Homo sapiens: one gene and its partners. The protein of the gene in region 1 purifies or fractionates together with the protein of each later gene. This does not show direct contact. Each region holds a gene or a part of one and is shown in the gene's direction. Other genes may lie near its edges. The genes, in order: SLC7A2, ABCG2, QSOX2, VPS45, CACNA2D1, ATP9A and LMAN2.

Evidence for each region.
Region 2: the proteins of SLC7A2 (region 1) and ABCG2 purify together in Homo sapiens (affinity purification with mass spectrometry; one large-scale study listed by BioGRID and IntAct). This does not show direct contact.
Region 3: the proteins of SLC7A2 (region 1) and QSOX2 purify together in Homo sapiens (affinity purification with mass spectrometry; one large-scale study listed by BioGRID and IntAct). This does not show direct contact.
Region 4: the proteins of SLC7A2 (region 1) and VPS45 purify together in Homo sapiens (affinity purification with mass spectrometry; one large-scale study listed by BioGRID and IntAct). This does not show direct contact.
Region 5: the proteins of SLC7A2 (region 1) and CACNA2D1 purify together in Homo sapiens (affinity purification with mass spectrometry; one large-scale study listed by BioGRID and IntAct). This does not show direct contact.
Region 6: the proteins of SLC7A2 (region 1) and ATP9A purify together in Homo sapiens (affinity purification with mass spectrometry; one large-scale study listed by BioGRID and IntAct). This does not show direct contact.
Region 7: the proteins of SLC7A2 (region 1) and LMAN2 purify together in Homo sapiens (affinity purification with mass spectrometry; one large-scale study listed by BioGRID and IntAct). This does not show direct contact.

Annotation. Positions count from the first base shown.
Region 1 is NC_000008.11:17,503,411-17,507,197, forward strand, and holds part of SLC7A2 (cationic amino acid transporter 2), read left to right. Parts: intron 1-3,787. UniProt on the Homo sapiens protein: Functions as a permease involved in the transport of the cationic amino acids (L-arginine, L-lysine, L-ornithine and L-homoarginine); the affinity for its substrates differs between isoforms created by alternative splicing.
Region 2 is NC_000004.12:88,155,582-88,160,062, reverse strand, and holds the start of ABCG2 (broad substrate specificity ATP-binding cassette transporter ABCG2), read left to right. Parts: upstream 1-1,490; 5' UTR 1,491-1,677; intron 1,678-4,481. Other genes in the region: uncharacterized protein LOC124900867, read left to right, coding at 507-593, 981-1,490.
Region 3 is NC_000009.12:136,211,058-136,214,844, reverse strand, and holds part of QSOX2 (sulfhydryl oxidase 2 precursor), read left to right. Parts: intron 1-3,392; coding exon 3,393-3,581; intron 3,582-3,787. UniProt on the Homo sapiens protein: Catalyzes the oxidation of sulfhydryl groups in peptide and protein thiols to disulfides with the reduction of oxygen to hydrogen peroxide. May contribute to disulfide bond formation in a variety of secreted proteins.
Region 4 is NC_000001.11:150,070,497-150,074,283, forward strand, and holds part of VPS45 (vacuolar protein sorting-associated protein 45), read left to right. Parts: intron 1-1,669; coding exon 1,670-1,730; intron 1,731-3,787. UniProt on the Homo sapiens protein: May play a role in vesicle-mediated protein trafficking from the Golgi stack through the trans-Golgi network.
Region 5 is NC_000007.14:81,961,251-81,965,037, reverse strand, and holds part of CACNA2D1 (voltage-dependent calcium channel subunit alpha-2/delta-1 isoform 1 preproprotein), read left to right. Parts: intron 1-678; coding exon 679-831; intron 832-929; coding exon 930-982; intron 983-2,542; coding exon 2,543-2,598; intron 2,599-3,014; coding exon 3,015-3,144; intron 3,145-3,787. UniProt on the Homo sapiens protein: The alpha-2/delta subunit of voltage-dependent calcium channels regulates calcium current density and activation/inactivation kinetics of the calcium channel. Plays an important role in excitation-contraction coupling.
Region 6 is NC_000020.11:51,600,605-51,604,391, reverse strand, and holds part of ATP9A (probable phospholipid-transporting ATPase IIA), read left to right. Parts: intron 1-3,044; coding exon 3,045-3,181; 3' UTR 3,182-3,787. UniProt on the Homo sapiens protein: Plays a role in regulating membrane trafficking of cargo proteins, namely endosome to plasma membrane recycling, probably acting through RAB5 and RAB11 activation. Also involved in endosome to trans-Golgi network retrograde transport.
Region 7 is NC_000005.10:177,348,582-177,353,147, reverse strand, and holds the start of LMAN2 (vesicular integral-membrane protein VIP36 precursor), read left to right. Parts: upstream 1-1,479; 5' UTR 1,480-1,500; coding exon 1,501-1,696; intron 1,697-1,856; coding exon 1,857-1,975; intron 1,976-4,566. UniProt on the Homo sapiens protein: Plays a role as an intracellular lectin in the early secretory pathway. Interacts with N-acetyl-D-galactosamine and high-mannose type glycans and may also bind to O-linked glycans.

The DNA of each region.
Region 1 (3,787 bases):
GAGTTTTTTCCTTCCTGAAATTCACTTTATATTCACTCCCGCGGTGTTCCTTATCTGTTCTAGCAAAGAGTACTTATTATTCATACGCGGCGCTCATAGTTCGCAGAATATTTGCAGCTTGCCAAGGTACTTGTCCTGACAAAAATTCAAATGGCAACTCTTCATGATAATTTGTATCAAAGAGTACTTATTATTCATACGCGGCGCTCATAGTTCGCAGAATATTTGCAACTTGCCAAGGTACTTGTCCTGACAAAAATTCAAATGGAAACTCTTCATGATAATTTGTATCAATGTGGGTATGAATTCCTGTGGGAAAAGCCTGAGCTCAAAGCTTTAGGCTACTCTGTATGGACTTTTTGTTTAATGATCATATGAAACAATACAATTTTATATTTATGTTTGAATTCACCAGCAAGTTTTAAGTGGTTTCTTTAATTCAGTTGTGATTTAAGCAATTGTTTGGGAGACGTCTTTGCTCTTGAGTTCTGGGGAAACCTAGAAGGAGCCTGGGGTGAGTTTTGACCCTCCATCCTTAAGTCCTCAGCAACACTCAGGTGTGTTTTGGCCACATGAGGAATTTACCTTTGTTCCACAGCAGCCTATGGCAAGAAAGTGAAGTCACATTGGCTGTGATTCCCCAAGCAAAGTGAGATTTCGATTTCAACTCAGAGGCCTGGCGTTTTGCATTGATCTGGACCTTTGTGAAGGCATTGGTAGAAGAATAACAAACTACTAAGAATTCAGTTTATTGATCATCCTGAAACAAAATGGCACTGCTGAGTGTTTAGTGAGCCTCAGTGAGGAGTAAGTATTGGGCACCAGCTGTGTGCCCTCTGAGAATGTGCCAAGTGCTTAGTGAGATTGAGGCCGGTGGTAAATGAGATCTTGTGGCTCTCCTGGACCACTGGTCAGTTTCTTATGGAGTTCAGTGTCTAGGGGATTGAAACCCTTACCTTTCAATTAGTTGCACTTTAAATTATTTCATACTTTAAAGTCTTGTATTGCAGTGATATTTTTAAATGTTTATGTAATTCTAATTGGCGGAGCCCATACTTGATAGAATTGCCAGTGGTTCTTATTATGGGATAAAATTGAGGTCATTTTGAGTGACCAAAGTAACAATTAATTCTATCCGGTTTATCAATTGTATTTCTATATGCATTCCTTAGAGAACCCATATATGTTCTCAGTTACTCTTCTACCACATCGTCTTCTCTTTGGCTTTCATCTTTATTACCAACTTTTATTAATACATTTGGAGAAGTTAAAGGTCATACTCTTTTTAGGTAGAATTGTATAATATTTACAACTTAAGCGCCATACTGTTTGAGCAGTCTCTGAAATTTTACTGCAACTCTTAAAAGATTGAGTAACTGACTCAAACAGGAGAACTAAAGAAATTCAGGTCCAGAAAAAGAAAAGATTGCGTGACTTTTACAGTTTTTTCTAATGAAAGGCATTTGCATGAATGGTTCCCATAGTTCCCTGATACACAGAGAAGGAGCTCCTCCTCCTTTACTCCGATCTGCTGGCCATTCTGTTTACATTCGTGCCTCTGTGGGAAAGAAGAACTCTAAGATCATAGCAGCTGTTCTGTGCAGCAGTGGCTCCCTTGATGTTTTAGGGGAGTTAAGGAAATTAAGTGATGGAAGCATGTACCACCCCCCACCCCCCCGCCGCCCACCCGATCCCATCCAGTTCACTTCCCTGTAAAAAAGAATGCACATCTGTATGTAAACTGTGCCTCTTCCCTCTGGCAATTTTGTGTAAGATTTCTGGAAGGTCAAGACTTCCCACATTCCAACCAGTGGGCAACTAGGGTTTCAGAAACCCAAGATAAGAACCTTGGAATGCAGAAACCATTTCAACTTCTCGAAGAAATATCTTAGGAGAGAATCCTGTGAGCAGGATGGGGCCTTCTTGGTCATGCATCCTTTCCTCTTGCTGAAGAAGACCGCTTATGGCCTCCAAGTTGGGGCTGAGAACTGGCCCAGAGGTAGATGTGGCAGTTGGGGTCACTCTGAGTCACAGAGGTATGACAGTAACATAGCAATGACCCTTCTCAACTAGTGCCATGGTGGATGCTGTTCCCTGGCCTCAAGGGTATACTTGACTTCAGTGATCTCCAGCCTCGCCATCTTTCTTTCCTCCAGATTCTTAGACTCGTAGATTTCAATGTCTTCCTATGGGCCAGAAACAAATTTACTTGAGTTTTGGCTGAGATAATTTAAACTGAGTATTTGTAAATGTCTGACATAAACAGAAAAAAAATGGGTAAGCATAGTCAGTGCCCTCTTTTCTTATCTAAAATTGGAGCATCTTTAGTGTGACATTTGAAATCTAATCTTGCCAGTTCAATGTCAGTCTGATACGGATATTCTTGTAGAAATCTCTGAGATTTAATAAACTTACAGTTGAGTAGAACTGAATCATACTAAAGACCAGTGGAAGCATCCTTGCAGGGCCTTATCAGTTTTTACAATGTAAAATAACTAACCCATAGCGTTTCCTTTTACAGTTAATGTTTGTTTAATAACATGCTTAAGGTATAATATTGAGACGAAGTGAGGAATTTTAATGCTGATTTAGCTACTGAAAAATTATCTCTTGCAACACTTGCTTTACTTGTAGTTAGGATTTGTAATGTTTTATTGCAAAAGAAAGCCCTCTTTTAAATGCGTTGCATTTGTGGCATAGTGGTTGTGTAGGTGGAGTAGGACTTGTGTCTGTACAATTCATCAAGAACATAGCACAGAGCACTTTTACATGCCATTCAGAGACAATAGTGGGTGTTGATAAAATTTGTAGTACTAGAGCTGTGAAAACAAGTGCTGGGCTGGTGCCTGCTTTAAACTCTCTTGAAACTTAGCAGAATTTCATTTTTATAACAAAAATCACTATTTTCTTTAAAGAGGATTGATAACATGAATAAGTCTAGGTGTCCTGGAAATTCATTTGGTTATATCACTATAAAAATGGTGAGACACTGTTGTGGTAGTTGGTTTTGTATTTTAAAGCGTAAACTTCACAGTACATTTAAAACTGTCCTGTGCGAAATTTCAGAGGCTTTGGACACGTTCCTTTCTAGCCTCCCTCGCCGTGGACAGTTATCAAGTTTCTGGCACGGTGCTAGACGAATATGGAAGAGAAGTAAGTGCCTCAGAATGACATTTTAGAACGCTCTTTTTATAGGTTAAGAGACTGAGATCTTGAGAGGTGTAACTCATCTGAGGTTAGACAGCTAGGGATACAGTGAAGACTGGAGTCCAAGCATATTGAAAAGTCAGACCATTCTGTTTTTGTGAAAACAAATAATAATTACTAGAATGCACTACTTCTGTGGAATTTTTTTTTTTGAGACAGACTCTTGCTTTGTTGCCTGTCTGGAGTGCAGTGGCGCAATCTCGGCTCATGTGAGGTTAGACAGCTAGGGGTAGAGTGAAGACTAGAGTCCAAGCATGTTGAAAAATCAGACCATTCTGTTTTTGTGAAAACAAATAATAATTACTAGAATGCACTACTTATTTGTGGAATTTTTTTTTTTTTTTTTGAGGCAGACTCTCACTCTGTTGCCAGGCTGGAGTGCAATGGTGCAATCTTGGCTCACTGCAACCTCCACCTCCCAGGTTCAAGCGATTCCCCTGCCTCAGCCTCCCAGGTAGCTGGGACCATAGGCGGGCACCACCATGCCTGGCTAATTTTTTTTGTATTTTAGTAGAGATGGGGTTTTACTATGTTGGCCAGGATGGTCTTGATCTGCTGACCTTGTGATCCACCCGCTTCG
Region 2 (4,481 bases), on another chromosome or scaffold:
CCATGTTGGCCAGGCTGGTCTCGAACTCCTGGCCTCAAGTGATCTGCCTGCGTCAGCCTCCCAAAGTGCTGGGATTACAGGCATGAGCCACCGTGCTGGCCTTAATTTTGTCTTAAAATGAAGTATGACTAACATGTATTTCTATATGGGCCTTTAAGGGTCTTGAAACTGACAGAAATTAATTCAAAAGAATAATTTTACCCAAATGTTTGGGCGCATCATGAATATATACCTTAAAATTCTTTTAAAAAGCATGCGGTATGGTATATTTAAAATTCTTTTTAAAAAATTATGTATAGTCAATTTTCTTATCTAGGCTTCCTAGCTAAAACTTTCCTGCATTGGGTGAACCATTAATAGTTATTCCTAGTGTTGATTTAAACAACTTAAATGATACTATGATTTTTGTTTGTAAATGCAAACCAGAAAATATCTGCATGCAGGTACTAATTTCCTAGGGTAGATGCAGCAGGTAGATGTTGGGATGGCTACACTCACAAAGCCTGATGGCCCGTTTCCTGAACATGCGCAATCACTTTCTAGCCTTTCCACACCATCGGAATATTGCACAGAAGTATGTCAGTCACAGGAGTGTAAAGAATAACATTTAAACTATGGTAATATTTTCATTCAGTAAGTTTCTCCCCTTTCCTTCCTTGGGTTAGATTCAGTGCCTGATTTTTTTAGGCCCTGGGGCGCAAGCATCCACTTTCTCAGAATCCCATTCACCAGAAACCACCCATTTAACTTGCTCTGGGTGCGAGCAGCGCTTGTGACTGGGCAACCTGTGCGTCAGCGTCCCCGGTGCTTCGGCGCTCCGGCCAGTGACGGCGACCAAACCCAGCTAGGTCAGACGAGGTACTGATCAGCCCAATGAGCGCCTGGTGATTCTCGTAGTTAATCACTCTGGTTCATTCCGTTCGATCCCGGAGGCGGGAGTGTTTGGCTTGTCCCTGCGTGTCACGGCAGGGTGACCCTAGCCCCGAGGGAGGGCGGTGGTACCAGTCCTGCTGGCGGCTCAGCGCGGCAGGACACGTGTGCGCTTTCAGCCGGGTCGCAGGGCGCTTATCGCGGCCCGGCAGTCGGGGCCACGCCTCACCCCCGCCCGCGAACCCCGACCTGGGGAAACCCGGGGCGCTGGGGAGGGGCCACTGCGTTCAGCTCTGGCGGTCCACAGCCCGAAGCGCGGCTTAGGAAGTTCGTGTCAGCGCTGCCTGAGCTCGTCCCCTGGATGTCCGGGTCTCCCCAGGCGGCCACCCGCCGGCTCCCATCGTGACCTCCAGCCGCAGCGCCTCCCACGCCGGCCGCCGCGCGAGGGGAGCGCTCGGGCGCGCCGGGTGTGGTTGGGGGAAGGGGTTGTGCCGCGCGCGGGCTGCGTGCTGTGCCCACTCAAAAGGTTCCGGGCGCGCAGGAGGGAAGAGGCAGTGCCCGCCACTCCCACTGAGATTGAGAGACGCGGCAAGGAGGCAGCCTGTGGAGGAACTGGGTAGGATTTAGGAACGCACCGTGCACATGCTTGGTGGTCTTGTTAAGTGGAAACTGCTGCTTTAGAGTTTGTTTGGAAGGTCCGGGTGACTCATCCCAACATTTACATCCTTAATTGTTAAAGCGCTGCCTCCGAGCGCACGCATCCTGAGATCCTGAGCCTTTGGTTAAGACCGAGCTCTATTAAGCTGAGTGAGTAAATTGTAAAACCAGTTTCGCTGAGAGTGTGTGTCTGGAAAGGTTGGTGGGCGTTGTGTATATATTTGTTAGAAAATCGGTAACCGTTCAAACGAGACGACTGAGTTTTTTAGCCTTTCGCAGTTTCATTTGAAAGTGGGTATGCAGTTTAAAACTGACAGTTCAAAGTGGTTTTTCAGAAAATGATGCCCTGGTGCAAACTGATTCTGGGTCCCATAGTGTGTTAAGTGTGGGTTGGTAAAAACTCTTGGCCTTTCTCCAAATGTATGAAATTAAAGTTGATATTGGAAGGATAAAAACCCACTGAGCACAGAAGTTACTATAGGTGGAGGAAACATTTGTTGATGTTAATATTTTAAAGGGGTTGACCAATATAGGAATTGGTCAATGACAATTGGGAATAGGTAAATGACAAATTATTGGTCAATCCCTTTAAAGCTTTGGATGGTTTGCTAAAGAATTATTGAACTCCCTTTTGTAATTTTCTGTGGATAGTTGAGTGCTCTTACTCCCTTCTCAGTCCTAGAGATATCCCCTAAAGCTTGGTTTTTAGGAGGATCTTACAGCTCTCTTATCATTTGAATGTCAGCTAGTCATAAATAAATACACCAGAGTAGTAAGGAAGAGATGTTTTTTATTGATATTCTTTACAAAACAGTGCTTTCAGAGTACAGCTTTGACTGGATTGTATAGATCTTGATGAGATCTTGATGAGAAAGGTTTCAACGACAAAGATGGCATGTTAAGTCTAACATTACCCTTCCATTATAAACATTGAAAGATGTTGGTTATTTTATTATTTATTTTATAATAACTTTTAATTGTGAAATAATTTGAGAGTTACTGAAAATTTGCAAAAAATAGTACAGAGAGTTCCCATAATATCATGCATAACAAGGGCCAAAACTAATAACATGGGCATGCTACTATAATACAATGAACTAAACTACAGACTTTATTTGGATTTCACTTGTCTTTCCACTGTCCTTTTTCTGCCCAGGATCCAATCGATGATCTCACTTTGCATTTAACTGCTAAATATCCTTAATTTTCTCTGATCTGTGACAGTTCCTCAGCCTTTCATTGTTTTTTCATGGACCTTGACACTAGTGAAGAAGACCCGGTCAGTTAATTTGTAGAATGCCCCTCAATTTGTGTTTGCTTGATGTTTAGTGTCATGATTAGATGAATGTTCTGCATTTTGGGGAAAAATGTCACAGAAGTAAAGTTTCCATCTCAGTATGTCATATTGGGTACATGATGTCAATACTTTTTTTTGAGACTGAGTCTTGCTTTATTGCCCAGACTGGAGTGCAGTGGCACGATCTCAGCTCATTGCAACCTTTGCCTCCCAGGTTCTAGCGATTCTCCTGCCTCAGCCTCCTGAGTAGCTGGGATTATAGGCGCCTGCCACCATGCCCAGATAATTTTTTGTATTTTTAGTAGAGACAGGTTTCATGTTGGCCAGGCTGGTCTCGAACTCCTGACCTCTAGTGATCCTCCTGCCTTGGCCTCCCAAAGTGCTGGGATTACAGGCGTGAGCCACTGTGCCCTAGCCGATACTTCTTATTACCTATGATGTTAATCTGTTTGCCAGATTCCCTTTGTATTTGAGATCTTGGGAGAGAAACCTGCACTGCCATTTTTCCTTAAACTTTTATTCATTAATTTAAGCATCCATTTGTGGAACATGTTGTTTAGCGGGTTTTTTTTCCTAATGGTTAAACAAAACCCCTATTTTCTTCCTTCTACATTTTTTAATTAAAATTCCCTTCTGTAGGGAAGAGTTGACCCTTCTCTCCTGTTCATTGATTCAGTTATTTGTATCAGTATGGGCTCATGGATATTTGTTTTGTTATATGGGTTATAATCCAATATTATCAGTATTTAATTTGCTGCTCAAATTGTTCTGGCTTTCACCACTGGGACCTTTTTCAGGTTGGCGCCTGTGCCACTTTGACATACACTTGCTTTTTCTTTTTCCTTCTTTTTTTTTTTTTTTTTTTTTTGAGACGGAGTCTTTGTCGCCCAGGCTGGAGTGCAGTGGCACGATCTCGGCTCACTGCACCCTCCGCCTCCCAGGCTCAAGCGATTCTTGTGCCTCAGCCTACCAAGTAGCTGGGATTACAGGTACGTAGCACCACACTTGGCTACTTTTTGTATTTTTTAGTAGAGACGGGGTTTTCCATGTTGGCCAGGCTGGTCTCAAACTCCTGGCCTCAAGTGATCTGCCCGCCTCGGCCTCCCAAAGTGCTGGGATTACAGGTGTGAGCTATCATGCCCGGACTCTTTTTCTTTTTTAATGCATTTCTTGATTTCTGGCATCAGAGAATGCTCAGGCTTATTTTGTATTTTCCATGTCCCAACCTTGGAATGATCCATTTCTCCAAGGCACTGTGATTATTTTGCTTTAGAATGGTATTAGAAGCTAATATCTGGACACTGGATGTTCTATTAGAGTTACTTCTTTTTTTTTTTGAGATGGAGTCTTGCTCCAGGCCAGAGTGCAATGGTGGGATCTCAGCTGACTGCAACCTCCTCCGCTTCCTGGGTTCAAGCAATTCTCCTGCCTCAGCCTCCTGAGTAGCAGGGATTACAGGCATGTGCCACCACGCCCAGCTAATTTTTAATGTTTTTAGTAAAGACGAGGTTTTGCCATGTTGGCCAGGCTGGTCTCGAACTCCTGACTTTGGGTGATCCACCCGCCTCGGCCTCCCCAAGTGCTGGGAATACAGGCATGAGCCACCGTGCCCGGCCTAGAGTTACTTTTGAACTTTTTATGTATAATAAAAAGTTTG
Region 3 (3,787 bases), on another chromosome or scaffold:
AAAGACAGAATAAGTGAAATCTGTTTGGAGAGGTGTTCTCATTATCAGCTGTTGTATAACAAATCACCCCAAAATTTAGCAGCCAGAACCACGGGAACCACGCACGGTTATGAGCTCATGGTTTCTGAGGGCCGGGCATGGCCTCATCTGGGTCCTCTTCTTCAGGATTGGTCAGGCTGCAGTCGGAGTGTCAGCTGGGCCTGGGGGGTCACCCAAGGCCCACCTGGGGAGAGTGGCTTCCCAGCACCCTCATGGGGCAGAGAGCAGGGCCTGCCTCCTTGCACGTGGCTTGCCTAAGGCCCTGAGCTCCATGCTGGCTGTTGACTGCAGGCCACGCTCAGGGCCTCTCCATCGGGCGGCTCACATCATGGCAGCAAGCCTCATCAGCAAGCCAGTGAGAGGGTGCCTATCCGAGGATGATATTCCATCACCTCTGTCAGATTCTGCTTACTAGTCAGTCCCCAGGCCCAGGCCACTCGCAAGGGGAGGACATTACAGGAGGCGTGAGTATAGGTGGTGTGATCTGTGGGGACCGTCGCAGAGGCTGCCCACCACAAGGGGTTAAAACCTATAAAACTTCGAAGTTGGATTTAATAATTTTCAATTACTAGGAAATAGATAAAAACAAATTTTCTGTCCTTCACAGAACACTAAAGTATGTATTGGATTTTTTATCCCCCCTGAATTTTGTTGTGTGTGTGCTTCCCAGTTGAAGCAGTAATTCAGGTTCATTAATGTTTACTTCAAAGCCGAAGTGGAGTCTTGACTCACACAGTTCAACGCTCTTTCCAGTAAGATTCTCAAATTCCTTTACGGTTATTTTTTGCCACATAACAAACTAACCTAAAATGCTGGGGCTTAAAGCAGCCACCACTGTTTGCTTATCATGCTGTGGATCAGCAGTTTGGGCTGGGCTCGGCTGGGCGGTTCTTCTGTGAGTTGCTGCTTGGGCTCACTCGTGTGTGTCTGCCTTCGTCTGGTGGCAGCTGGTCAGTCCAGGGGACCTTGGAATGCCTCGTACTCCTGAACGTGGCTTCCCCACCAAGTAGCACCAGGTTCAGGCAGGACCCCCTGAGAGTCCACCTCAGTGTGGAGTCACATATTATTACTTCTGCCGCATCCTGTTGACCCAGCCTAAATTCGTGGTGAGAGAAATAGATTCCACCTGTTAATGGGAGAGTGTCCCGGGATGGGGGCACTATAGTGGCCTTCTGAAAATCTGTTTTGGCCCTCCTCAAGGTGATATTGGATTACTGCTTCTCGGGGGTCTGGTTGGGGGAGAGGGTGGGTTTTAACCTCAAATCCTTTTCATAATCATACAGAAAAAAAGAGTAGTATGTTTTTGGGGAGAAACCTTGGGAGCTGTCCAAACAGAAATTGAAATCACAGCATCCACACTGCCTGATCTAATGCCCAGCTAGACCATGCAAACCTGATTCCGACCGAATGCCCAGCCAGACCATGTAAATCTGATTCTGAGCTGTGCACAAGGCTCACACCTGTAATCCCAGCACTGGAGGTTGCAGTGAGCCAAGATCATGCCACTGCACTCCAGCCTGGGCAACAGCAAGACTGTCTCAAAAAAAAAAAAAAAAAAAAAACACAACAAAACTGCTTCTGAAGCGTGAGCCTGAGTTAGGAAACCTCACGTTTACACATGGAAAGTTCTGGTGAGGAGATGAGCTGACATGCCATCCCCCTTTCCGTCTGCTCTGATCACACGGGCACACGCAGGCATGAGGAACGGCTCCTTGAAGGCAGTGTGGGTACAGTGTTGGCCAAGGGGAGAAGTTGAGTGACCGGGGTATTTGATTTTAAACTCTTCTAGGACCAGCCCTAGTGTAGTGGAATTGTAAGAGCAGTGTGATGGCAAAGCACACTGCTAGCAAGACCCTCAGCGCTCCTTCCGCCCATCAGCATATTGGAAGCAGCCTCCAGGAGTAGCCTCCTGCCAAGAGAATTGGGTCAGAGGCGACCACGGGATTAAGTCTTGGAAGGTTTTTCTTCTCTTTACTGTATGTTTAAGCCCTATCTAGTAAAATGCCTGTGAAGGCCTCTAATCCTCCCACAGGTAGAGGTTTATGGTTCTTGTCCACTTTAAAGATTAGGGTGGCCCCGCGCCTGCGGTGATGTGGGGAAGAGGAGGGGGATTACGTGGAGATGCAAGGCAGATGTCTGTGGAGCCCTCCCGGCAGGAGAGCAGGGCAGACGGGCCGGGTCACAGGGCCAGCGCCTGCGGTCCCATCTGAGACACCGCCCAGCTGCCCGTGGACACGCTCAAGGCTGAGGAGGAGGTGGTCTGCTCTGCTCTGCTCTCACCTTTCTGGGTGAAATAAACAAGAAGTGTCGGGATTTGGGACCGACCAGGACGCTGAGGTCAGGGCCTGCACGCAGCTGTGTTTTGCAGGGAGCCACGACAAGCGTCAGGCCTGCACTCACGCGGGAAGCTCCCCCAGGGCCTGCTGTCGATGAAGACGGATTCATTCGCGAAAGCATGTCTTTTTTTAATGCTGACATGTAATCTGTTTTAATCTCATGGGTCTCCTATCTGTGCGTTCAAGCTCCTGTGTCAGTCGTCTGAGTGGGGACTGCCGAGCCCCGCCCCATGCTGCCCCCTTGGTTTTCTCAGGGGTTCCCCTTGGTTGCGGTGCTGGCTGCTTCCTGCCACCTGTGGGCAGGTGTTGCTTTCTTGAGATGTGTGTTGTTCATTCACAGTATCTGCGGAAGCGCCCCGGCCTGTCCATGTCTGTTAATACGTTCGGTGGCACAAACTCTGGCTGTGGGTGCACCCGTCCCTGTGCCTGCCCACCTGCTCCACATCCTCACGCCCGTGGCTGGCGGCAGCTTAAGAGTCACTTCCTAAGGCCGTGTCCCCACTTGGGCTGGTGTCCTGCAGGGCTTTCAAACGCGACAGCTGCAGGTTTAGAATGAGCAGAGTCATTGCCCTGGTACCAGCCCCTGAGAGTTGCTTGTAAGGCAAGAGAGACTGCACCCAGCTGGCAAATCCCGGGGAAGAGCGGCACTCCGGGCGTTCTGGCACAGACGGCTGGAAGACTGGTGGGAGGTGGGAGGCGCCCCTGGAAGGGCTCCTTTGGGCCCTGGCGGCCGAGTCCGTGGCTCATCCTCCTGGCACCAGGGCATCTGGGGAGCATGTCCGCCCTCTGGGCTGTCCACAGTCATTGTGTCTCCAGAGCCTGCAGCACCCGTGGGCGTGTTGGACATCTTGGCAGGTGCTGGCTTCTGGTCTGTGCCCACAGCCTGAGGCCCCTGGGGAGACATGAGGTGGCTTCCCGACATGTCAGGAGCGGTTTCCCCCCAGGCTCTCTGGACAAGCGTGGGGTCAGGTGATGCCCACGCACCTGCCGTTGTCAGCAGTGTTTCTTCCCCTGCAGGCTTTGAAGACGACCCCCAGGCTGTGCTGCAGACAATGAGGAGGTACGTTCACACCTTCTTTGGGTGTAAGGAATGTGGTGAGCACTTTGAGGAAATGGCTAAAGAATCCATGGACTCGGTGAAAACCCCAGACCAAGCCATCCTCTGGCTGTGGAAGAAGCATAATATGGTGAACGGCCGCCTGGCAGGTGAGAAGCCCCTGGGCATGGGGGGCTCAGCACGGGCGGAGGGAGGCCCTGGTCCTGGGACAGCAAGGACGGCACGGCTGCCGTGGGGCTTGTCCCTGAGCTTTGCGGCCTCGTGCCACCCACTGTGCTGACGGGATCAGGACTTGGGTGGCTGAGAGCTGCCAGAGCTGCAGCCTTTCCCAGGCTGCTTCTGTCCCCGGCTTTCT
Region 4 (3,787 bases), on another chromosome or scaffold:
GAATCTTTCCTTTTGGCCGGGCGCGGTGGCTCACGCCTGTAATCCTAGCACTTTGGGAGGCCAAGGCAGGCGGATCACGAGGTCAGGAGATCGAGACCATCCTGGCCAACATGGTGAAACCCCGTCTCTACTAAAAATACAAAAAAAAAAAACAACAAAAAAATTAGCCAGGCATGGTGGCAGGCGCCTGTAGTCCCAGCTACTAGGGAGGCTGAGGCAGGAGAATCGCTTGAACCAGGGAGTCAGAGGTTGCAGTAAGCTGAGATCACGCCACTGTAGTCCAGCCTGGCGACAGAGCAAGACTCCGTCTCAAAAAATAATAATAAAATAAAAATTAAAAATAATTTTTAAAAAAGAATCTTTCCTTTTTCTTTTTCCTCTTTTATATATTCTCTTTTGTCTTTTTCCACATTGTCTGAACTTTTAAGAATCTTTTAATTCACTTTGTTATTTTTGCCTAGCATATTACGAGGAAGTAATTGAGGTTTAAAAGATTTATTATTTAAATTTTTTGCCTTAAGATTATATTATAAAGTTAATTTGAAATCTAAATTGCATTTTTAAATCTAAATTACAATTTTTAAAACCCTTTCCCCATTAATAAGCAGTATATATTGCTTACTTTTTTTTAATTCTGTAAAGAAATGTGATTTTTAAAACAAATTAATATGTTTAGGGAACAATTTATATTGAAATTTAACCAGGTGTTATAGTATCAAAAACCAATAAAACCTGCATTATAATCTTATGTAATTGGAATCTTATATTTTGACCATATAAAAATCAACTTTTTTGTTTTAAACTTTCATACTTTATTTTAAAACAATGTAATTGTAGAAAAGATCTTAGCCTGCTACTTGCAAATACTTCACAAACATTGTAGTTGTGCAGAGTCTTACATCCCAATAAGTTAAAAGCCAAAGTGAATATAATTAACTTTATTTTCTCTTGCATGTTAATTTTTAAAGGAATAGACACATTTAATGCTCTATATAGGAATTTTGATCAGGCCAGGCGCAGTGGCTCATGCCTGTAATCCTAACACTTTGGGAGGCCAAGCCAGGTGGATCAGTTGAGGTCAGGAGTTCGAGACCAGCCTGGCCAACATGGTGAAACCCCGTCTCTGCTACAATTACAAAAAATTAGCTGGGTATGGTGGCACAAACCTGTAATCTCAGCTACTTGGGAGGCTGAGACAGGAGAATTGCTTGAACCCAGGAGACGGAGGTTACAGTGAGCCAAGATTGTGCCATTGCACTCCAGCCTGGGCAACAGAGTGAGACTTAATCTCAAAAAAAAAAAAAAAGAATTTTGAGCAAATGAATACAATTTATAGACAAGCAGCTTGATGTGAGTTTGCAGAATTATAATCAATTTTATGTTGTGTTTCAACATCTGTGTCCTTTATATTCTTTATCTTAATTGGCCAAAATGCAGCTGGTTAATATTTAATATTATACACATATTATTAAATAATATATGATTCCCGATCATTGTATTTAATTTATCTCTTTTGTCTCCAGCCCTTACCCACCAACATAAGCACACTTAACCTAGACTTCAATATGCAGTAGACGCAGTAAATAAACAAATCAATGGGTGAATGCTTATTACTTTTTTCCTTAAGCAACTCTCCTCATATTTTGTTTGCTTGTTCTTCATTTTCTAGGAGAATGTGGATTATATTATTCAGGAGCTCCGAAGACCCAAATACACTATATATTTCATTTGTAAGTATGTTAGTTCACTTTTTCAAACATGTAACAACATCCCAGTTAGTGTGTTTCATTGAGCCCTTCATATCATCAATAACTTCATTGAATCTGTCACTATAAAAGTCTAGTTTATTTAATGTCCTTCCAAAGTATTAAAAATCTTTTGACCTGCCGGGCGCGGTGGCTCACACCTGTAATCCCAGCACTTTGGGAGGCCAAGGCGGGCGGATCATCTGAGGAGTTTGAGACCAGCCTGACCAACATGGTGAAACCCCATCTCTACTAAAAATACAAGATTAGCTGGGCATGGTGGCACATGCCTGTAATCCCAGCTACTTGGGAGGCTGAGGCAGGAGAATCGCTTGAACCGGAGAGGCGGAGATTGCAGTGAGCCGAGATTGCGCCATTGCACTCCAGCCTGGGCAACAAAGCGAAACTCCATCTCAAAAAAAAAAAAAATACTTTTGACCAATATTCTGTTTCAGAGGGCTAAATGTGATTTCCATTCATCTTTGATTGCTTAAATTAAAAATTTTACATTTTACTTTGCCTTTCAAGATGCTTTGTAAGTCAAAAGTTTTAAGTAGACAAATTTCACATCTCACCCCTGCCAAAAAAAAAAAGTATATACTTATCCCTGTTTTACACTTAAAAATTGAGGCATGGAAGCTGATTTATTTTTTGAAGTGGGAAGGTAATACTTGAGTTTGCTGGAAAAGCAGAAATTTACTTTACATACCAGATAAAAGCCTTTCACTTCTCTTTGTTACTATATTTAATGCACTGAAAGTATAAATCATCAGGTAGTGATCTCTTATGTGCACAACTTTCTTGGAGTGGGGGTTAGGTAGGGGAGATCTGGAAATAAACTAGGTTTGTGTTTACTATACAATTTACATGGATTTTTTTGATCCAATACATTCGGCTGTAGAAGTTACATCTATTCTCCTCTAGATGTCATTATTTATCTTTATGTTAATAGTGTTAGTGTAGTCTATTTGGTAACATTTCCAAAACCAAGGACTAGATTTAACAGTAAGTAGGGCATTTGAGAAGTTTTAAAGCTTACTTAAAGGTATTAGAGTTTTAGGGTTTAGACTACAGTCTAAGACGTACATACTTTCTTCAGCGTATACTACTTAAATAGAATAATGATACAAAAAATTAACATTTGCGAAAAGACTATATATATATAAGAGCTCTCTCATATTTTATTTCATTCAGTTCTGTGTAGAATTGAAAAGTTACATAAAGCTTGTCCAGTGGGTTTTCAGTGCACGACGCCCCAAGAGGTAAAAATAGGCAATTTTATTAATCTGTGGCAACTTAATTTTTGTTTGTTTTTGTCTGTTTGTTTTTGGCTAATAGTCACAGGTTTTCTTTTTAAAATTAAACTTTCTATTTTGAAGTAATTGTAGATTCATGTGCAGTTAAAAAAAAAACAACGAATAATAATACAGAGATCCCAGATACCCTTTACCCAGCTTCCCCCTGTGTAGTATCTTACATGATGATAGTACAATATCACAACCAAGATGTTAACACTGATACAGTCAGGATACACAACATTTTCATCTCTATAAGGATCCCTTTTATTAGCTTATATGGACTTCTGTCCCACCCCAACCCCCTCATTAACCCTGGTAACCACTAATATTTTCTCCATTTTATATTTTGTCATTCGAAGAATGTTCTATAAATGAAATCATACAGCATATAATCTTTTGGGACTGGCTTTTTTCACTCAGCATAATTCTCTGGAGAGTCATCCAGGCTGTTCTGTGTGTGTGTGTGTGTTGTTTTTGTTTTTTTTTTTTGTCCGAGAAGCAGTCTTGCTTTGTCACCCAGGCTGGAGTGCAGTGTCGCCATCTCAACTCACTGCAACCTCCACCTCCCGGGTTCAAGCGATTCTCCCACCTCAGCCTCCCGAGTAGCTAGGATTACAGGTACACACCACCACGCCCAGCTAATTTTTGTATTTTTTTTTAGTAGAGACAGGGTTTCACCGTGTTGGTTGTCCAGACTGGTCTCAAACTCCTGACCTTGGGTGATACGCCCGCTTCAGCCTCCCG
Region 5 (3,787 bases), on another chromosome or scaffold:
TAGATGGGACTTGTTCCAGTTCATCACAGCCCCTACAAGTTCGTTTTCTAGGCCAGCCTGCTCTCTCATTTATGCCACTTTTCCATTCCCCAGGGGGGCATTTGATCTTTTTTTTATTGTATATGTTTAAGGTGTACAAAAAAAAGCTTTGATTTGCATAGTTAAGTGATTACTGCGTCAAGCCAATTAACATATCCATCATCTCAGGTTGTTAACCTTTTTTGCGGTATGGTAAGAAGACTTAAAATCTACTCTCATCAAATTTCTGGTAGACAACACAGTATTATTAACTACAGTCCTCTGTTGTATGTTGAATCTCTAGGCTTATGCATTCTACATAACTGCTTCTTTGTACCCTTCCACTTATACCTCTCCATTCCCCGGCCCTGTTTTATTCATCTGGGAAGCATTTGATTGTGATTTAATGCTTAGTAATGTGTGTCCATTCTTTCCACAAATAAAATATCACACAGCCCCACTGAGTAATGAGAACACTTACTCTCATTTTAGTTTGTTCACAGTGTCATATACACGTTTCTCATTTGCTTTTGTTTTTAAGCTCCTCAGTTGTAGTTCAGTTTCTTTGTATTATTTCTTTTCACTGTAGTGGTGATTCCCGTGTTCATTTTTGGCTTACATTTTAAGTGCACGTTGCTTTATGATTTTTTTCTTCACCAGATTGGAAGATTTTTTGGAGAGATTGATCCCAGCTTGATGAGACACCTGGTTAATATATCAGTTTATGCTTTTAACAAATCTTATGATTATCAGTCAGTATGTGAGCCCGGTGCTGCACCAAAACAAGGAGCAGGACATCGCTCAGCATATGTGGTCAGTAATATCCACGGTCTAATCAATTCTCAAGGGGTACTCAAGTGTCCTCAGTATCAAGTAGACTACTGAAATGACCTTATTATTTTATTTTATAGCCATCAGTAGCAGACATATTACAAATTGGCTGGTGGGCCACTGCTGCTGCCTGGTAAGTCAAAATTTTAGTTTTATTGGTAATGAAAGAAAGAAGTTGTAAAATAAAAAAGCATCTGATGAAAATATGGATTTAGGGGATATTCAAATTTTTATTAAGGGAGTTAAGTTGTTTTCATTCTTTACATCACCTATTGGTAATATTTATAGTTTTTCCTAAGTGAACACTATAAAGTTACCATTATTCAGTTTCTCATATGAAAACAATGTTATGCGGATGTAAACTTCAGCCTCTTTAGAGTCTTCCTTCCTCTACATATCTATTGAAACTCTTTTCATTTGTATTAAATATTTATAAAAACATTACACTAATTTCTTTTAGGTGTATTGATCTGTAAGAAGTTACAATTTGTCTTTAATATCCCAGTTGGATGTCTACATGCATCAAATTCATGGCATGATGGCAACCTTCTACCTCTTTACTATTGATACAAGGACTAGTATTGTTTTAGGGGCATCAGGTTGCCGACATGGATCTAATTATTTCTTTTCACTGATGCTACCTTCCAAACCTCCCTCAACCCTCACCTGTAGACCCTACAACCTATGAAAATAAGACATTTAAATGGTCAATTGTGGCACTGTGGAAGGTCTGGAAGATCACATTTCTCATTGTTTAGTTGTAACTAAACCTCCTGTTACGTCTGGAATCCATGATCTCCCTCTTCCCTCTCTCCCTTCTAATCTTTTTTTTTGTATCATCACACTGTATTGTTAGCCCTATTCCATGTAGATTAATGTACAATATTCATTTGATGTTGAGGTTTGCCCAGCTAAAATTAAGTGACTATATCATTAAAGCAGCAAAAAAGATTTTAAAATTTTGAGAGTTTTTAAAAGATTTAGAAAATTCTGTTTTATTCTGAAAAATGGTATTTTCTGATGTGATTTTATATATTAATTTCAGTAGGCTTTTAAAATTTCATCATGACCCTGAAATACTTGGCTTTATCCTATATCCCCTCCCACCCCCACTTTTTTTTAAACTAAATTCAGTTCTAGAAATTTGGCTCAGTTGTCAGTTACTGTAAAACTGAAATGTGCTGTATCTCTCTAATATGTATATTTTGTTTCATGAAAGTTACATTACATATTTACAAATATATTCTATATTACAAAGTAAATAGTTAACAAATTCAAACCCATGGTATAAACAGCATTGTTTCTTTGTTGGGGGCGGGGGAAACCCAAAAAACAAATGGTTTTAAAAACTAAAATAAGGAGACGTAATGAATGTGAAAACCTACGCGCTGAAACAGACATTCTCCCTCTTAGAGTGAACTCTTCTGCTTGATAACATTGCCTGTTAGGTTTCTTCACACATTGTGTCCCACTTGATCCTGAACAAGATCTGAACACTTCTGATTTCATGACTTCTTTTACACATTACAAAAAGGTTACAATGTGTTATATAATTTTGAAAATACTTAAATAAAAACACTCCAAGACTTTCTTTCCCAAAAAGATAAAGGGAAACAGTATTTATGTGTATGGGTACATGTAAAAACACATTTTTTCCCTAGATGTTTATTTTTTTTTTATTTGAAAAATTCAGGTCTATTCTACAGCAGTTTCTCTTGAGTTTGACCTTTCCACGACTCCTTGAGGCAGGTATGTAAATGCTCAGACCTTGTCATTGCCATAACAATAAAAATTTTCTTTTGGGATGTGCTTGAAGTTCAACAAATTCAGAGAATATTTGTGTGAAAGAGAAAACAGGTCACCCATCTCATAATTTTAGAGCTAGAAACTTTTTGTCCAACCTTTCCTAATGTTTTAGAAATTACCTAGGTCACACGGGCCTGATCTCATAGCCATCTTGTATTTGAATTCATTTATTCTCTTGATATTTATCAGGCATCTATTACGGGCTGCCACGATATTACACAGCAGTAAACAAGCCAGTCGAGGGGTCCTGGTCTTATACGTTTATTTTGCTCTGTGAGAAGTGAAGACTCGAGGGGAGTGACTACAGAGACCCCTCCTAATGGTGTTCTTTGTTTTTACACCGTCCCCCGCCACCCAAGTTGAGATGGAGGATGATGACTTCACGGCCTCCCTGTCCAAGCAGAGCTGCATTACTGAACAAACCCAGTATTTCTTCGATAACGACAGTAAATCATTCAGTGGTGTATTAGACTGTGGAAACTGTTCCAGGTAATTTATTTATTTCAGGAGTAGTCCTATTTCATTAAGAAATTGTATATACTGTTATAATCATTAAGAAATTGTATATACTGTTATAATCATTACAGAAAAAACTGAAAATTGTGTTGGAGTCAGAGATGTGAGTAATTGTTTTAAGCTGAAAATGTCAGCAATCTTTAGTTTCTCTGTAGACTTTTAAAATTTGTAATTTTTAAAATTCTAACTTTGATAAGCTGTTATTTCTTCAACTATAATAATTACATGATCAAGATAATTCCTTTCTCTTTAGGCAGAACATAGAGAAATTTGATTATATTTTAACTTTTTTTCCTAAAATAACCCATATTAAAAATTTCTAATATAAAGTTATTAAATATATTAGTAATTTAAATAATTCTAAGCCAAATATTATTTATTTTTCTATATAGTAACTAAACAGATTTACAAAAAAAAAGTCTTGTTTTGTTTTGTTTTTACTTCTAGTCTTCTCTGACTTGAAGAACTGAATGTTATCTTTATTTGAATTTGAAGGAACTGGGAAAAATACAGTTTTTTTAGGTCATGGTTAATGTTAGTCAGTATCCATAAAATATCTTTTAAAAAGAGATGGAGAATTTAATTTTGTTGTAATGAGGGTAGAGGAGAAAGGCAA
Region 6 (3,787 bases), on another chromosome or scaffold:
TGTGTCCTGATAGAGCTCCTGAGGGACTCCAGGGATCTCAGAATACAATCTGCTGCTCCTCACAGCAAACCAAGTGCTGAAGGTACTCGCCAGTTCCGTAGACGTGGGAGCACCTGCCGTGTGCCAGGATTATGGTGGCAGATGAGGTGGACGGGCTCGCCAGGGAGCTGCCCTTCTCGTTGGGAACACACGATAAACACACATTAAGTGAGTGTGAGCACAGGAATATCAGATGTGATCAAAGTTACCAAGAAAGAAAAATGGGGTGAGGTGCTAGACGCCCAGGCACACCCCAAATAAAAAATGTTATGGAGGCCGGGCACAATGGCTCACACCTGTAATCCCAGCATTTTGGGAGGCAGAGGCGGGTGGATCACGAGGTCAGGAGTTTGAGACCGGTCTGGTCAACATGGTGAAACCCCATCTCTACTAAAAATACAAAAATCAGCAGGGCGTGGTGGCACACACCTGTAGTCCCAGCTACTTGGGTGGCTGAGGCAGAAGAATCGCCTGAACCCGGGAGGCGAAGGTTGCAGTGAGCTGAGATCACGCCACTGCACTCTAGCCTGGGCGACAGAGTAAGACTCCATTTCTAAATAAATAAATAAATAAATAAATAATAAAAAATGTTATGGGAATGTAGAGATGGGGGAGTGTCAGCACCATCCTAATGTGGGGTGGTGGCAGATTTCTCTGACCTCAGTAGTGATTCCAGGTACTCTTGGGCTTGTCCAGCGTCAGCCACTGTCTCTAGATGGACAAGCCTGGTTTCATCACTCTTCCATGCTGACCTCACTTGCTTTGCCATATCAGTTAATTTCTTCCCAATTGATTGAGCCACAAGTCCCTGCAGGGCCACCAAGATGACCCCATGCTATGCTACGGACCCCATCGGGTGCTGACACGGGCTTTAATTCCTGTCTAGAAACCTGTTTCTAGTTCAACTAGAACTTGCAACACGGGCACGGTTCAGATGATCCAGCATTTTCTGTGTTGTGCTGTGGATAGATTCTGAACTCTAATCTTGGTTTCCCCCGCACGGGGCAAACTCAAGCCGCTATGGCTTTGGAACCTCAGGGCCAGGGGTCATCCTGAAAGTCTAGCTGGTTTAGCAGACAGTCCTCTTTACACCTCTTTCCTCCTCAGTAGGAGCATTTAATTTTCTGTCTGTGTTATTCAAACAAAAAACCCTCAAGAGTGATACTGTTTCTCCTTTATCAGCTGGGGGAGCAGGGCCCGGAGGCTGCTTCTCTGCTAAGAAGCTCATGTGTGTTCAGGATTGCAGGATAGACTCTCTCTGGGGGAAACTTTCAGTTAATGACAACCCCCTCACGCCCCATCCTCCGTGGGAAACCTGCAGGGCCCAGGCTCTCTAGCAATGGCCCATCCCTTGCTCCTTTACCTCAGGCCTTCTCAGTGGGGGTGGTGTGGACCCCACCGCCTGGGGAACAAACAGTGGTCTTTGGTGGGGTGTGAACAAACCCTAACCTTTTACGTATAAAGGAGATGTATATATAATATTATAAACAGATACACAGTATACCTGTGACATTAACATGTCATGGAGGTGGTCAATTAGGAGAAGAAGAAAAGTCTAAAAATGTTCCTTAAGGGGCAATAACAACAAAAAGGCAGAGAAACTCGACCTTACCCTGGAAGCATCTTTGATCGCGGCTCTTTTGCCAGCTTCCAAAGCTCCTTAGGAAGGTTTTAGTAAAGGTAAAAGAAACATCCCCTGAAAAGTAAAGGTTTCACAGTTGCAGCCCCAGTTTCTAGAAAGGATTTGTGAGCATTTACTGTGCGCTCCAGGAACTAAAGGAGCATCCCTGTGAACAGTGGAGTTTTAAAGCAGTTTCACCCTTGTCACTAGTCTCTAGAAAGCGTTTTGTGAGACCTAGTATGTGCTCAAAGGCTTGGGCCTGAGGTGGTCACAGAGATGTGGCCCCTGCTCAGGAAGCTCAGCTTGTTTGTGATAGGGACACACCACAGGACCGGGTCAGAGGTGTAGGAAAACCACAGGGTGAGTTGAGCCTTGGGCCTGGCACTTAGTAGGTGCTGCCTCAGTGGCAGCTGCATTTCAGCATCCTGTGCTCAGAAAGTGGAGAAGGGGCTTATTCTGGCTTCTGCTATATTGAAAGCCACAAACTGTCACTCCTCTCTTAAGAAAACCTCATAACCGGGTTTATAATCCTGCAGCAGGAAAGGCAGTACGCCCGCCCCCCCCACCTTCCATCAGAGTCCCTGAGGGTCAGCTTAAGCCTTTCTCTGACAAGGGGGTCTGAACACTTTGCACCATGACCCAGACTCATCCTGTGGCTTTCTGCGACCATCACTGGAAGCAGAGGGTGCATTTGAATGTCATTTTCTGCTCGCCAGTGGCCGGGACTTAGAAAGACTCTCCAACTGTTAGACAACACCAAATCAAAAGCATCTCTGAGTTTTCTTCCCCTGTAATTTTCTTTCCTTCTTTTTTTCTCTTTTTTTTGAGACAGTGTCTTATTCTGTTGCCCAGGGTGGAGTGCGGTGGTGCAATGTTGGCTCACTGCAGTCTCAAGCTCCCCGGGCTCAGATGATCCTCCCACCTCAGCCTCCTGAACAGCTGGGACTATAGGCATGTACCACCATGCCTGGCTAGTTTTTGTATTTTTTGTAGAGACAGGGTTTTGCTGTGTTGCCCAAGCTGGTCTCAAACTCCTGGGTTCAATTCTTCTGCCCGCCTTGGCCTCCCAGAGTGCTGGGATTAAGGCATGAGCCACTGCATCTGGTGGCCCCCATAGTTTTCTTCTCCTGGGTGTTAAAAGTAGCATTTCACTGTCAGGAAGCTACAGAAGAGAGAGCGAGGAAAATCAAGCTGCGGCGCTGTGTGCTCTTAGCCATGGTACCTTCCCTTACAGTCCATGGAGAAAGAGGGCCAATGCCAGGAGGCTGTGGGTTTGTGACGGGAGATGACTTTCCCTTTGATAGTTGTGACGCCTGTTTCTGGACCCCATGCACCTTCCGGAATATTCCTGCCTGCTCACTGCCGTCTTCCCCTTTCCTTGCAGATGTGTACTTCATCGCCACCTTGTCATTCTTGTGGAAAGTCTCCGTCATCACTCTGGTCAGCTGCCTCCCCCTCTATGTCCTCAAGTACCTGCGAAGACGGTTCTCTCCCCCCAGCTACTCAAAGCTCACATCATAGGCCGTGCGTTCGCTGGAGGGGGCCCTGGTCTTGGCGCTTCCCTGATGGACAGAGCTCAAGTTCCATTTATATTAACCGCCACCTGTGGATTTTGCAGTAATTGCTAACACATGCAGTTTTAATGGGAAGTGGCTCTGCGCCTAAACGGAGTCCTAACGCTGCATCAACGGGAGGGAGGGTCCTGAAAGAGACCCATCTGGGCCTGTCTGAACCCCTCGTTCTTCATGTTTAGGTGAATATGAATATGTTAAAGCTGGTGGCTCAGCTGGGAGATTTATATGGGTCACTGTGCGAGCTTCCTTATGACTTGAATTTTGTTGTCACATGATAAAAGTTTCTGTGTAGCTGAAGGTTGTAGAAGGCTTGTGTGTGTGTGTGTGTGTGTGTGTGTGTGTGTGTGTGTTTTTAAAGAGTCCTAATGTGTATGTACTCTTTATGTCTTTCTTGCTCTTACAAAGAGGTGTCAGAAAAATAGAAAGCTCTTGGTGTCGGTTTGGGAGGAAAAGACAGTGACATTTGGTAAAAAGTTATCCACACAATAATCTCCATTCGGAAATGCTCAGTATCGTCTCCAGCCAGCCCTGCTTATCCAGGTTACACTGGATT
Region 7 (4,566 bases), on another chromosome or scaffold:
ATGCAATGGCGTGATCTCTGCTCACTGCAACCTCTGCCTCCTGGGTTCAAGCAATTCTCCTGCCTCAGCCTCCCGAGTAGCTGGGACTACAGGTGTCCGCCACCACGCCGTTAATTTCTTTTGTATTTTAGTAGAGACGGGGTTTCACCGTGTTGCCCAGGCTGGTCTGAAACTCCTGAGCTCAGGTAATCTGCTCGCCTCTGCCTCCCAAAGTGCTAGGATTACAGGCCTCAGCCACTGAGCTCAGCCGGAAGTCTGGATTTCTGATGTGAATGTACATATTCCGACTTTGTGTGTGTGTGTGTGTGTGTGTGTGTGTGTGTGTGTGTGTGTGACAGAGTCTCGCTCTGTCGCCCAGGCTGGAGTGCAGTGACGCGATTTCGGCTCACTGCAAGCTCTGCCTCCTGGGTTCAAGCCATTCTCCTGGCTCAGCCTCCCGAGTAGCTGGGACTACAGACACCTGCCACCACGCCCGGCTAATTTTTTGTATTTTTTAGTAGAGACGGGGTTTCACCGTGCTAGCCAGGATGGTCTCGATCTCCCGATCTCGTGATCCGCCGGCCTCAGCCTCCCAAAGTGCTGGGATTACAGGCGTGAGCCACCACGCCCAGCCTCTATATTCTGACTTTAAAATACTGGTAGTTAAGCCATTTATTAGAATATTGGCAGGTAAAACAGAGCTCTATTCAGCTGCAGGCCACCAGTTTTCGACCTCTGATTCACAGCTTTCCTGGGCCTTCCATGGACGTTACTTGCTGTACCAGGCACTGCGCTCTTTTGCATAGGGATGAGTTCCAGTCATCACTGGGGTCCCAGGCCAGGATCTGTGTCTGTTCCTCTTGCTTCAACCCGACTAGGCCTGAGGAGTTGAGGGTAGTGGAGGCCCTCAAATAATTGGGAATTCTGAGTCTCCAAAGGCGCGAAGCTGGGGCGCCTGACGGCAGGCACGGCTTAAAGGCTTGCCCAGGGCCACCCGGGGAGGACAAGGGTTGGAATGCAGGACTCCGCCTTCAATTCAGAGCTCCTTTCTCCAGGACTAGAAAAGGTTATTCCAGAGACGGGACTTGCGGCCAGAAGCCCAAGACGTCCTAGTCTTCGCGAATCCGCCCCATTAGAGCGACCGACAAAAACTACAAATTCCAGCATGCCCCGAGTCGCGGACGGCCCTCGCGCTCCCGCCGGCTCCAACCATCCCTCTGCTCCTCATTGGCTCGCAAGCCTAACGTGCTGTTCCGTGACTGGTTACAGCTCTTGTCGCTCGAAAGAACCCATTGCTGGGGCTGGCCGGCGTGTGCCTTGGAGCCTCTAAGGAGATGAAACTGCACTCAACCAGGATGAGAGGCTGCCCGGCCAATGCAGCTGCCGCCCCGTCTGCTGCGGAGGCTTTGCTTTTTGACTCCCTGGCGACAGTAAAGTTGAAGAGCTTCCGGCCGGAGGCCAATAGATGGGACCCCCGGAAGGCGGAAGTTCTAGGGCGGAAGTGGCCGAGAGGAGAGGAGAATGGCGGCGGAAGGCTGGATTTGGCGTTGGGGCTGGGGCCGGCGGTGCCTGGGAAGGCCTGGGCTTCTCGGCCCCGGCCCTGGCCCCACTACACCTCTCTTTCTTCTTTTGTTGTTGGGGTCTGTGACTGCGGATATAACTGACGGCAACAGTGAACATCTCAAGCGGGAGCATTCGCTCATTAAGCCCTACCAAGGTGAAGCCCTTGGGGCGGGAATGAGTGAAGAGTGAGGGCGAGGCTGAACAGGGCTAGGGGAAGGCGTGCCCTTTCTCCTGAGCAGAGCATCTCTGTGGGTTTCCTGCCTCTGGTGAGGCCAGTCCTGGCGTGGCCTCTTAGCACCTGTCTCTTCCCACAGGGGTCGGTTCCAGCTCTATGCCCCTCTGGGACTTCCAGGGCAGCACTATGCTCACGAGCCAGTACGTACGTCTGACCCCTGACGAGCGCAGCAAAGAGGGCTCTATCTGGAACCACCAGGTGAGTGGTTCTCAAGAGGATAGGCGTACTGTGCGGTTGGCTGCTAGTCCCTGCCTCCCGAGCAGCTGAGACCCCAGCTTCGTTTATAGGTTTGCACCTCCGTCCCTGGCCTTTTCCTCATCTCGGTCACACCCACCAATAATAAGAGGCGATGGGTATTGGGTACTTACTATGTGTCAGGAGCTGCGCTTGACACTTTACATCCTCCTCACTTTAAAAGCCATGCGAGATGAGTAATGTTATCTCCATTTTACCCACTGAGAAGCTAAGACTCAGGTTTGAAAGGGCCTTACCCAAAGTTACATAGCCAGAAAGTAGTGGAACTGTCAGGCTGTCTGCCTTGAACCCCCTCAGTAATGGGAAGAACCGAGCGAACTGGATCTTTATTGGGTGTTTTGCTGTGTATTAGGCACTGACCTTGCCATGCCTTATTGCATTTAATTTTCAAACAAGCTGTTTGAAATAGATGGCTTTCATGACTATACAAAGATAACCCAGCTAGCAAATGTCATAAACAGTATTTAAACTCTGATTTGTCTGATCTCTAAGCCCAGCAGTTCACTCGATGTACTTGACTCTTTTCACCTGGACAGTGGAGGAACCCCTTAGAACCCTTTTTGCAATGCTTGGTTGAGGGTCTTGTCATCAGTAGTGTGGAGGGACTGGACCTGTGGGCAGTTCTAGTGTCTGTGACCTTTGCCTCAGAGTATGTAGTATGTAGTATGTGAGCAGTGGCCAATGACAGCTGCTACACAGAATCCACACTGAGGCAGTCAAGGTGAGGAAAAAGGGGAAAGAAGAATAATTTGGGGCTGGGTTACAGCTTGGAGCGGGACCTGCTCCTGCCCCAGCTTGCCTAATCTCAGCCCTTCCCATGGCTTAAGCTGTTGGCCAGTGTTCTAGTTTTCTCCATCACCCTGCTCTCTGATCCCTGCTGGTTGACTTTCTTGTTTAGTTCTGGGAACCCACACTGTCCTTGTGTTGCCTGGTCTGCCCGTCCCCTCTGCTCCTCCTCTCCTTCCTGCCCCGAGCCTCCACACTGCTGTTAGTGGCATCTGCGGATACTTTCTTCAGCTTTCAGTCTGATCCTCAGAGCGTGGAGTCCCCTGTGAAGGGGTAAGCATGCATTATGTCTGCACAATCTGGCCCCTTGTGCATCTCCAGTCATTCTCTGTGTTAATTTTGTTCCAGCCCCCCCTGGCTGCCTTCTTGCCTCAGGACCTTTGCACCTGTTGTTCCCTCTGTCTGGGACACTGCCTCCTGGCTCCTCATGCCTGCTTGGTTCCTTCTCATCTGTTAAGTCTCAATTCAAGTGCCACCCACGCAGACATTTCTTCATTAACCACCCTATCTCCCCCGAGTCACATTCTGTCACATTCTGTCTTAGGGCTTTCAGATATTTTAAAGAAATGATAATTCAGCCTTATATTTTTCATGGAAATGAGTTCAGTATAGCATTATTATTATTTTTTGAAAGCAAGGTGCAAACAGTGCTGGAACTGTAGAAATCAGGAGTAGCCACAAGTAATAGACGCATCTAAGACAGTGGCTTACATTTTGGTTGTAGATAGCTGATGGTTGGCATCATCAGTGGCTCGAGGATGTCACAGGACTGAGAGGCTTCTGCACTTGCCTTCATCGAATTTTCAGTCTGGAGTACAATTGTTTTGCCTTCCTTCCTCCACCTTTCTATTTGGCTCTGCTGATATTCCTGAAACATTTGGAGTGCTTCCTGTAAACTCTGGAAAGAAATGGCTTGGAAATCAGAATTTTCTGTTCAGTGTTTCCCAAGAACTGCCTCTTCCTTTAATGAGCTGGAGAGATGCTTCCTAAACTTTTCCCTTTTTTATCTCCTTCATTCACTCCATCCGGGAGAGGCATGCACTCAGGCGAACATTCCCTGAACACCTGCTGTCTTCTGAGCAGCCATAAAATAGCTCCTGCTGTGGTGCAGGGGGGGTGGTCTAGATGAAGGAGTGGCTCAGAGTTGACTAGAACTCTTAAGTGCCTGGTGGCTGCAGCATAGGACCTGGGGAGGCTGCTCAGGCCCTGTCCTTTTGGGGGTCTTGTGCGGAGGCTGCGGCAGTGGTCTTTAAGCTTTCTTTGCTGTTGTAGCAACCTTTTGAAAAGTTGGCATCAAAAATTGTTTGTCATTAGGTTTAAGTATTTGCAAAGGATGACAGCATATTTTAAATATTGACATTTTAAACTAAAACTGTTCAGTATTTTAAACATTCAGTGGAATCTAAATATTGCAATTTGATATCCACTTTTTTTTTTTTTTTTTTTGAGACGGAGTCTTGTTCTGTCACCCAGGCTGGAGGGCAGTGGCGCAGTCTCGGCTCACTGCAACTTCCGCCTTCCTGGTTCAAGTGATTCTCCTGCCTCAGCCCCCTGAGTAGCTGGAATTACAGGTGTGCACCACCACGCCCAGCTAGTTTTTGTGTTTTTAGTAGAGGTTTTTTTTTTTTTTTTTTTTTTTTTTGAGACAGAGTCATGCTCTATCACCCAGGCTGGAATGCAGTGGTGCGATCTCAGCTCACTGCAACCTCCACCTCACGAGTTCAAGCGATTCTTCTGCCTCAGCCTCC